Linked DNA regions of Homo sapiens. The protein of the gene in region 1 purifies or fractionates together with the protein of each later gene. This does not show direct contact. Each region holds a gene or a part of one and is shown in the gene's direction. Other genes may lie near its edges.

Region 1 (4,085 bases):
CAGCGAAGTTTTGGTCTATGAGGGTCAGTGCTGTCCTCATAGGCTATCATTTCTGTCCTGGTGTTTAACAGCCCTAATGGGTGTGATAATAATATGTTTGCAATCCCCTGTTAACAGTAAGCATCAGACAAGTGAGGGGTGCTAACCTGCAGACTGCCGGCATGCTTCTCCAGCATTAGGGGACGACCAGGTTGAGCTTGTGCTGGGAGAGCGTCCTGTCTGAGGGTAGAGACATAGCCCCTGCCTTCAGAGACTCCCAGCCTGATAGAAGAAACAGTCTCTGCCCTGGAGAGCCCCTTGTCCAAGGGTATAGAGAGTTATTGCAGGCTCAAGAAAGAGACAAAAGTCACTTGCGATGCATGCAGTTAGCAAATATCTATTGAGGGCCCTCTCTGTATGTGCCCAGCAATGGAGTGGGTGCCAAGGGTACAGGGGGAAGGGGGCCTGTCCCTGTCCTCAAAGTGCTGTACCTGAGCAGTCACAAAATAGTATGGTGGTGGGTGCCACGAGACAAGAAGGTGGGGCCCCCAAGCAGGCTGTCTGGATGTGCTGCCACCTGGAAGTCCCCTCTCTGCACCCCTGGCACTTCCCAGGTGCATCCACCTTCTGCAGCTCCCATTTCGTCCTCCTTGCTCATAGCTGGTTGCTTACCTAAGGTCTCTGACCAGTCCATAGCCTATTCACCTCAAAACCCTGCGCTGAGGAAGCGCTCAGTGACCGAGGAAAGAAGGGAAGCAGGAAGGAAGGAAAAAGGAGAGAATCTCTGCCACCACCACCCTGTGCCAGTCACAGGGCGCAGTCTAGGAGCCGCCTGGAGACCCACGCTGACCTGGCTTTCCCTCAGAGCTGGGAGCATGGGATGTGAGGAGCCCCTGGGTCAGCCTGTGCCCTTCTCCTCCCCTCTTCCTGTCGTTTTCTACGTCTAATTCAGACTAGGTGTGTCTGTGGCTCTTCGGAGAGGAAACAAGACATTTCACACTGACACTTCTCCCCACCCTCCTCAGATAGCCCATTTCCACGTTGTTTGGGGGCAGGATGGGTCCTCTGGGTGGGAAGAGGGTGTGGAGGATGGAAAGAGCCGGTAAGAAGGAGAAAGTCCCGCCTCGGAGGGCTCGGGTGGGGCAGGAGGAGAGGCTGCCTCCAGTCACAGAGCCCGGAGGCAGAGGCCTCCCAAGGTGCCATGCTCTTCAGGAGGGTCTGAGGAGGAGGGAGGGGCGGCAGAGTGGGCCTGTGCTTGGAGACGTCACCCCGGGCTTTATAAAAGGGATGTGATCAGGGAGCTGGGGAGAACTCTTGAGACCGGGAGCCCAGCTGCCCACCCTCTGGACATTCACCCAGCCAGGTGGTCTCGTCACCTCAGAGGCTCCGCCAGACTCCTGCCCAGGCCAGGACTGAGGCAAGGTAGGCACACTGCAGTGTCCACCCCTGGGAAGGGGGTCTGCCCTGACCTGGGGATGCTCTGGAGGGGAGCAGGGAATCCGTTCTAAGACGGACAGATGCATCCAGGCAGGCAAAGGCAGGGGAGGGAGACACTGATCTTTCCTGTTTACCAGCCTGGCCAGATTATCCTGGGATGCCTGGGCGAATACACTGAGTCGCACTTTATTTGTGAAGCTAACACTCTGGGGATCCCGAGGGCTCTCTCTTGCTGTGGAAGGAATACATGCAATAAATAAATGCTGTGGCTGGAATTAGAGACCACAGACACGCTTGGATGGACCTAGGGAACCGCTCGGGGCTCTTGAGAGCAATGGGGCTCCTCTGAGCAGCTCCCCCCAAATTACAGATGGCAAATACAAGCCTAACCAAGGGCATCTACCTACCCACTAAGAACTAGGGGCCACTTCACTCCAGAAGCTTTCCAACCATGCCTGGAATTTCTGTCACTCACTGGATACAAACCCCCCAGGGTGGAGGGAACCACAAAAATTGTCTACAGCAGGTCGGCCACTCATGGCCCCTTTCCAAATAATTCATTTCTACCATATATGTTAAGTGCCCCGATGGGCTGGGCAGTGGAATCTGTGTGTGTGTGTGTGTGTGTGTGTGTGTGTGTGTGTGATATGTGTGTATGGGTGTATGTGTGTATATGTGTGTGATGTGTGTGCGCATGTGTGGTGTATGTGGTGTATGTGTGTGTATGATGTACGTGTATGGGTGTATGTGTGTATATGTGTGTGGCGTGTGTGTGCATCTGTGGTGTGTAGTGTATGTGTACGGGTGTATGGGTATATATCTGTGTGGTGTGTGTGCATGTGTGGTATGTGTGGTGTATGTGTGTGTATGATGTGTATGTATGGATGTGTGTATGTGTGTGTGTATGTTGTGTGTATGGGTGTATGTGTGTATATGTGTGTGTGGTGTGTGTGCGTGTGTGGTGTGTGTGCATGATGTGTGTGTATAGGTGTATGTGTGTATATGTGTGTGGTGTGTATGCGTGTGTGGTGTGTGTGGCATATGTGTATGTGTGTGTATGGGTGTATGTGTGTGGTGTGTGTGGTGTATGTGTGTGTGTATGATGTGTGTGTATGGGTGTATGCGTGTATATGTGTATGGGTGTGTGCGTATATATGTGTGTGGTGTGTGTGTGCATGTGTGGTGTGTGTGGTGTATGTGTGTGGTGTGGGGGGTGTGTGTGTGTGTGCTGGGGTCAGGCAGAGTTGTCCCATGGCGCACATGGTAAGTGCCATCCACAGTGGGAAGGAGGCACTCGGGGGGAAAGGGGAGCCGGAAGAAAGAGTACCACCCTCCAACCACACAAGCCCACTGCCCTCCTTCCTGGCCCACCACCCTGCTTCCGCACAGAGAACCGGAAATGTACATCTACCCACATTCCTGTCTGGCTCAGACCCCTCCAGGATGAAGCCCCTGCAGGGCCCCTTCCCCCAGCCTTGTCACTAGCTTTCTCTCCATGCAAAGCTCCATCCTCTTGTCTAGCTAGAGGGCCTGAAGTTCCCTTTGCACTCAGCCCCTGCCCTTGCTTCAGCGCCTTAGCACCGTCCTGGGAACACTTTCTGTAAACCTTTCAGCGATTCATGCTCAGAAACAGCTCAAGTGCCACCCCCTGCCAAAAATCTGCCTGGTCCTCCTAGGTTGGGTTCCCCTGGACTCCCATATCCCCTTGTGGATTCACATGCATCCGGTATGTCATTTACAGTGTTATTTTGAAATGATCTGCTGATGAGTTAATTTCTCATGCTAGACTTGAGATCTTGGGGGCAGCAACTCTGTCTTAGCACACCTGTGCACCCCTAGCACCTAGCACAGCACCAGCACCTAGTCGGTGCTCAAGGAGTGATTTCCAAATCAACCCAGACCCTGTGCATCCACGGTCTGAAATGCTTTTACACTATTCTCTCCAATGGATTAATCCTACCTCTACTCCGTGCCCCAGCCCTGGGCCTTAAGGTAAATGCAGAAAGCTGTGGTCTGGGTTTCAACTTGTCACAGTATCAAAGTCTGCAAGGATAAGTAAACTTCTGAGCAGGTGGCTGGTGGCCAATCTGATCCAGGGTTCTTATTTTATAGATGGACCAATGAGGTCTGGAGATGGGGGTGACTTGCTCACATTTCACAGGGAATGAAAGCAGAGCTGGGGCAAGATTCAAGTACTCCTCATTCCATTTCAGGGTTCTTACTCTTTACTCCATGCCTGAGTCCTGCAGGGAGCTGGGTGAGGAATGGGGGGTGGGGGTGTGGGTGCAAGAGCAGAGAGATGCATGGGCCTGAGCCACCATTAGGAGCTGATGGGCACAAAAGGTTCTCATCCCCCAGTCCCCCTTCCCCAGGGAGAGCGGCTCCAGGCTGTGGGTCAGGCCAGGACAATCTTTTTGCTCAGCTGGCATTGCTCCTGCCTCCCCAGCCTTTTGTCTTTAATCGTGTTTGTTGGACAGTCTCAAAGTGTCTGGTGACTTTTTCAAAAAGAAATTAGATTTGGGAGCCGGAAGAGGTAGGGTGGGGTATGTGGGGTGTCGGTGGGGCAGAGCAAGGCAGGGTGATGGGAAATGGTGTGAGGATCAGGGCACACGGCTCCCATCTCAGCAGCCAAAATGATGAGGCCAATTCAATTCATAGCCTCTTAGAGT
Region 2 (2,722 bases), on another chromosome or scaffold:
TCTGCCTGTCCCTCTCTCCCAGGACCCATGGCCTGCCCCACTGGCGGGTAGCAGTGGCTGTAGGGAGGAGGGCTGTGGCCCTGGACCTGTCCTCTGACCATTGGCTTCCTCTCCAGGAGGCTGTGAAGCCCGTGCTGTGGCACTCGCCCCGCCCCCTGGGGCCCCCTCAGGTCCTGTTCTCCTGCGCTGACCTCGGCCTCCGCCTCCTGGCCCCACTGATGCCCTTCCTGGCTGAAGAGCTCTGGCAGAGGCTGCCCCCCAGGCCTGGTTGCCCCCCTGCCCCCAGCATCTCGGTTGCCCCCTACCCCAGCGCCTGCAGCTTGGTGAGTCCCAAGCACCTTGGAGTGGGTCTGTGGGTGAATGGGGGGGAGCACCTTCTGAAGGGGTTTGCTGCAGGGGGCTCATCTGCAGGAATGGTTCGTACTTTACTGTGGAGCCCTGGGGAAGATGGATTGTTCCTGCAGGGTTGCTGCGATGACCCTAGGGTCTTGAGGGACAGTATTAGCGTAGTGCTCAAGAGCAGGACTCTGTTGCTAGACTGCTATTTTTGAGCTGTGTGATCGAGCCTCAGTTTCCCGCATGTTTAAACTAGGAACAGTAATAGTATATGTTATGGTTGTGATGAGGGTTGGATAAGTTAGTAATAGGGTGTCCCCAAAATCTCAGTGCAGCTTTAATAACTTCAGAAGGATAAATGCTATGAACTCACCCAAAAATTATTTTAAAATTTAACTATTTAAATTTATACTTATTTGGTTTTGAGTTTTGACTAATTCATTTTAAATTCTAATTTATTTTTGGTTGGCCATTTCAATCACAGCAACTAAACAGGCATCAAACACTGATCATCTAAAACCTCTTAAATGACGCCTCACTTTTTGTCATGTTCCTTGAGATAGTGGATTTTCTGTGGTGCTGAGGACAGATCTCATTGCCCTAAGGAGATGGGGTGGATGGGTCGAGAAGAGAGCCAGCAGGGTTGGTACTGAGTCTCCCAGGAGCCCCTTTGCCAATTCTGGGTCCCCCCCATTGCCAGGAGCACTGGCGCCAGCCAGAGCTGGAGCGGCGCTTCTCCCGGGTCCAAGAGGTCGTGCAGGTGCTAAGGGCTCTCCGAGCCACGTACCAGCTCACCAAAGCCCGGCCCCGAGGTGAGGCAAGGCGGGTCCTGGGCTCGGATCCCTGCAGGAAAAGGGGGCTGGTGGGGAAAAGAGCAGAGCCTGAAGGGCCAACCCCCCCGTTAGGAGGTGCAGGGTAGGAAGGGAGGCAGGAGCTGAGGCCTTGCCCCTGACAGTTTCTTTCTTTCCAGTGCTGCTGCAGAGCTCAGAGCCTGGGGACCAGGGCCTCTTCGAGGCCTTCTTGGAGCCCCTGGGCACCCTGGGCTACTGTGGGGCTGTGGGCCTGTTACCCCCAGGCGCAGCAGCTCCCTCCGGCTGGGCCCAGGCTCCACTCAGTGACACGGCTCAAGTCTACATGGAGCTGCAGGTGACCAGAGGGGATGGGGAGGGTTAGGGCAGGCTTGGGAAGCATGCTGGGAGGAAGGGAGGGGCTGGGCTCTATAAAGTAGGGGAAGGGACCTTCTAATGGAGGATGGAGGCCTGGCAGCAGGCGGATGTCTGAGCCTTTTCTCCCTGTTCTTCCCCAGGGCCTGGTGGACCCGCAGATCCAGCTACCTCTGTTAGCCGCCCGAAGGTACAAGTTGCAGAAGCAGCTTGACAGCCTCACAGCCAGGACCCCATCAGAAGGGGAGGCAGGGACTCAGAGGCAACAAAAGGTAAGGCTGAGGGAGGCCCCCAGAAGGCTCCACCCCTGAGGGAATGTGGGCCAGGAGGGGCCTCATTCCTGGATCCTCACCTCCTTTTCTCCTCGTCCAGCTTTCTTCCCTCCAGCTGGAATTGTCAAAACTGGACAAGGCAGCCTCTCACCTCCGGCAGCTGATGGATGAGCCTCCAGCCCCAGGGAGCCCGGAGCTCTAACTCATCATCCCCATCAGTTTTCCTCCCTCTCAGACCTGTCTTTGAGGACAAACAGATTTGTCAGCTGTCAGGGTGCAGTGGGACGTCAGAGACTATGTGGTCCATCGCCTTCATTGTGTAAATGAGGACACAGACTGGCTTGGTCGCAGTGACTGTGGTGTCCTTGAGATGCTCACATTACTGCCCGGCCTGCCTCCCACCTGGAAGTCTGGGAATGAGGAGATTGAGATAAACTTTTGAAATCCCAAACATGTCTGTTTATGGCTCTTTGGTCCCCTTTGCTCCCAGTGGTGACTTTTGTGCTTCTGAGTTGTCCCCTGAGAGCTTGGTCTGGGAAAAGAGGAGGAGGGGTCCTCGCTGGAGGAAGAGGAACTTTCTAGTCATGGGTAGGGTATGGGCACAGTGGTTCCGGTTCTACCTACTTTCTGGACTAACTGACAGTGCCCTGGCTTTTGCAGGCTCTTTCTCCTCCACTTCTCACTAAATGGAAGCTTCCCCGCTCCTTGGCTGTATCCCTAGAGGTGCTGAGAGAAGTAGGACTTCCTCCAGACCTGATGGGCTGCAGGCTGTGCTGCAGATGGTGTGCCCCCACCTTCTGTGCTCTGACACCTGAGTGCCCAGCCTCTGAGTTACACATTCACAGCACAGCCAGCCACCTTACCCACGCCAAACACCATCTCATCTCCATGGAATTCAAGGGCCTGGCCCTTCCACGCCCAGAGTACATTCTGTCCAGCAGCTCTGAGTAG
Region 3 (3,500 bases), on another chromosome or scaffold:
ACTGTGTCCGTCCATACAATCTCGTATGGACGGACACAGTTTGTTTATCCATTAACTGGTTGATGGACTGTTGGGTTGTTTCCATTTTGACAACTGCAAATAAAGTTGCTGTGAACATCTGGATATGTGTCTCTGTGTGGACGTATATTTTCATCCTCTTGGGTAAATACTTAAGAGTAGAATGACTAGTTCATATGGTAGATGTGTTTAAATTTCTTTTTTTTTGAGACAGGGTCTCACTCTGTTGCCCAGGCTGAAGTGCAGTGGTGCAATCACGGCTTACTGTAGCCTCTACCTCCTTGGGCTCAGGTGATCCTCCCACCTCAGCCTTCCAAGTAGCTGGTAGGTACTACAAGGGCGTATGCCACCACACCCAGCTATTTTTTCTGTGCTTTTGTTGAGACAAAGTCTTGCCATGTTGCCCAGGCTGGTCTTGAATTCCAGGGCTCAAGCAATCTTCCCACCTCTGCCTCCCAAAGTGCTGGGATTACAGGTGTGAGCCACTACGCCTGGCTATGTTTTAATTTTTTTTTTTTTTTTTTTTTTTTTGAGATGGAGTCTCTCTCTGTTGCCCAGCAGTTGTTCACTGCAACCTCTGTCTCCTGGGTTCAAGTGATTCTCCTGCTTCAGCCTCCTGAGTAGCTGGGATTGTAAGGATGCGCCACCACACTCAGCTAATTTTTGTATTTTTAGTAGAGACGGGGTTTTGCCATGTTGGCCAGACTGGTCTTGAACTCCTGACCTCAGGGGATCCGCCTGCTTCGGCCTCCCAAAGTGCTGGGATTACAGGTGTGAGCCACTGAGACTGGCCATGTTTTAATTTTTAGGAAACTGCCAAGCTTGTTCCCAAAGTGGCTGTACCATTTTGCATCCCCACCAGCAATGTTCAAGAGTTCCAGCTCCTCCTCATCCTCACTAACACCTGGTATGGCCAGTCCTTAGTTTTAGCCATTCTTATAGGTGTGTGCTGGTGTCTTCATTTGGTGTTTTTATTTATTTATTTATTTGTGAGATGAGGTCTCACTCTGTCGCCCAGGCTGGAGTGCGATGGTGCGATCCTAGCTCACTGCACCCTGGAACTCCTGGGTTCAAGCAATCTTCGGGCCTCAGCCTCTGGAATAAGTGGGATTACAGGTGTGCACACCACTGTTCCCAGTCTTATTTTGGTTTTAATTTGCATTTCTCTAATAACTAATGATGTTGGACAGTTTTTCATGAGCTTCTTAGCTATTCATCTCTTTGGTAACGTGTCTTTTCAAATGTTTGGGCCATTTTTAAGTTGGGTTGCCTTTTTTTTTTTTTTTTTTTTAAGACTGAGTCTCGCTTTGTTGCCCAGGCTGGAGTGCAGTGGTGCGATCCTAGCTCATTGTAACCTCCACCTCTTGGGTTCAAGCGATTTTCATGTCTCAGCCTCCCGAGTAGCTGGGATTACAGGTGCATGCTACCACACCCGGCTAATTTTTGTATTTTTAGTGGAGACGGGGTTTCACCATGTTGGCTAGACTGGTCTCAAACTCCTGACCTCAGGTGATCTGCCTGCCTCAGGCTCCCAAAGTGCTGGGATTAGAGGCATGAGCCACCACACCCGGCTCTTTTTCTTTTTTCTTTTTTTTTTTTTTGAGATGGAGGCTTGCTCTGTTGCCCAGGCTAGAGTGCAGTGGCGTGATCTTGGCTCACTGCAACCTCTGCCTCCCAGGTTCAAGCAATTCTCCTGCCCCAGCCTCCCGAGTAGCTGGGATTACAGGCGTGTGCCACCACACCCGGCTAATTTTTGTATTTTTAGTAGAGACGGGGTTTCTCCATGTTGGTCAGGCTGGTCTCGATCTCTTGACCTTGTGATCTGCCCGCCTCAGCCTCCCAAAGTGCTGGGATTACGGCGTGAGCCACCATGCCCGGCCCTCTTTCTTAAAAGACATCTTTGTCATTCTCCCCTATCCTCCATCCTAGTGAAAAATCACTGTTTGGAGCAACTGATAGGGGCATCTCATGCCTCAGGTGCTAGTGTGGGGAGAACCCCTAATGTGGCAAGATGGAGCATGCAGAAAATGGATCATATTTTGAGGGAGATTGGTACAAGACATTCTCCCAAAAGTCATTTTGAGACATTGAGTCTTTGTAGCATTGTTCGTCTGTTCCTTCATTTATTGCAAATGGGACAGCCAGGCCTGGAGCACGACCCACCTCCTCGCCTCAACCTGCCCACGTCTCCTTCCTCTTCATCCTTCCACTCTCCAAGGTTCTGGCCCCTCAGAGCCACCTGCCTGACCATGCAAGCTCAAGTAGTCCCCAGGACACTTTTGCTAGTCACCTAGTGTGTGTGTGTGTGTGTGTGTGTGTGTGTGTGTGTGTGTGTGTTTGAGATGGAGTTTCGCTTTTGTTGCCCAGGCTGGAGTGCAGTGGCATGGTCACTGCAACCTCCACCTCCCGGGCTCAAGCAACTGATTCTCTTACCTCAGCCTCCCGAGTAGCTGGGATTACGGGCGCCTGCCACCAAGCCTGGCTAATTTTGTATTTTTAGTAGAGGTGGGGTTTCTCCATGTTGGCCAGGCTGGTCTGGAACTCCTGACCTCAGGTGATCTGCCTGCCTGGGCCTCCCAAAGTGCTGGGATTACAGGCGTGAGCCACTGCGCCCGGCTTGTGGTTTTTTGTTTGTTTGTTTGGTTTGGTTTGAGGAAGAGTCTCACTCTGTCGCCCATGCTGGCATGCAGTGTCGTAGCTACCTGCAGCCTTCTTGACCTCCTGGGCTCAAGCTATCCTTCTGCTTCAGCCTCCCGAGTAGCTGGGACTACAGGCATCTACTAACACACCTAATTTTTTTTTTTTTGAGACATTGTCTCATTCTGTCGCCCAGGCTAGAGTGCAGTGGCACAATCTGGACTCACTGCAACCTCCACCTCCTGGGTTTAAGCGATTCTCCTGCCTCAGCCTCCTGAGTAGCTGGGATTACCAGTGCACGCCACCACGCCCAAATAATTTTTGTATTTTTAATAGAGACGGGGTTTCACCATGTTGGCCAGGGTGGTCTTGATCTCCTGACCTCGTGATCCACCTGCCTTGGCCTCCCAAAGTGTTGGGATTACAGGCGTGAGCCACTGTGCCTAGCCCACACCTGACTAATTTTTAAAAATTGTTTTGGGCCGGGCGCGGTGGCTCATGCCTGTAATCCTAGGACTTTGGGAGGCCGAGGTGGGCAGATCACTTGAGGTCAGGAGTTTGAGACCAGCCTAGCCAACATGGTGAAACCGCTTCTCTACTAAAAATACAAAAATTAGCCAGGATTGGTGGCACGTGCCTGTAATCCCAGCTACTCGGGAGGCTGAGGCAAGAGAATCACTTGAACCCGGGAGGCAGAGGTTGCAGTGAGCTGAGATCGCTCCACTGCGCTCCCACCTGGGCGAGAGAACCAGACTGTCTTAAAAAATATATATATTATTTTATAGAGATGGGGTCTTATTATTATTTTTTTTTGAGATAGAGTTTTGCTCTTGTTGTCCAGGCTA

Evidence for each region. Proteins that work in one complex are often made in the same cells at the same time.
Region 2: the proteins of KISS1 (region 1) and VARS2 purify together in Homo sapiens (affinity purification with mass spectrometry; one large-scale study listed by BioGRID and IntAct). This does not show direct contact.
Region 3: the proteins of KISS1 (region 1) and KLHL26 purify together in Homo sapiens (affinity purification with mass spectrometry; one large-scale study listed by BioGRID and IntAct). This does not show direct contact.

Annotation. Positions count from the first base shown.
Region 1 is NC_000001.11:204,193,692-204,197,776, reverse strand, and holds the start of KISS1 (metastasis-suppressor KiSS-1 preproprotein), read left to right. Parts: upstream 1-1,285; 5' UTR 1,286-1,401; intron 1,402-4,085.
Region 2 is NC_000006.12:30,924,238-30,926,959, forward strand, and holds the end of VARS2 (valine--tRNA ligase, mitochondrial isoform 2 precursor), read left to right. Parts: intron 1-116; coding exon 117-323; intron 324-1,036; coding exon 1,037-1,148; intron 1,149-1,306; coding exon 1,307-1,482; intron 1,483-1,642; coding exon 1,643-1,771; intron 1,772-1,871; coding exon 1,872-1,973; 3' UTR 1,974-2,222; downstream 2,223-2,722. UniProt on the Homo sapiens protein: Catalyzes the attachment of valine to tRNA(Val) in a two-step reaction: valine is first activated by ATP to form Val-AMP and then transferred to the acceptor end of tRNA(Val).
Region 3 is NC_000019.10:18,640,028-18,643,527, forward strand, and holds part of KLHL26 (kelch-like protein 26), read left to right. Parts: intron 1-3,500. UniProt on the Homo sapiens protein: May play a role in endo(sarco)plasmic reticulum (ER/SR) mitochondrial signaling. May be part of the ubiquitin-proteasome system (UPS) and affect ubiquitination and degradation of target substrates in cardiomyocytes.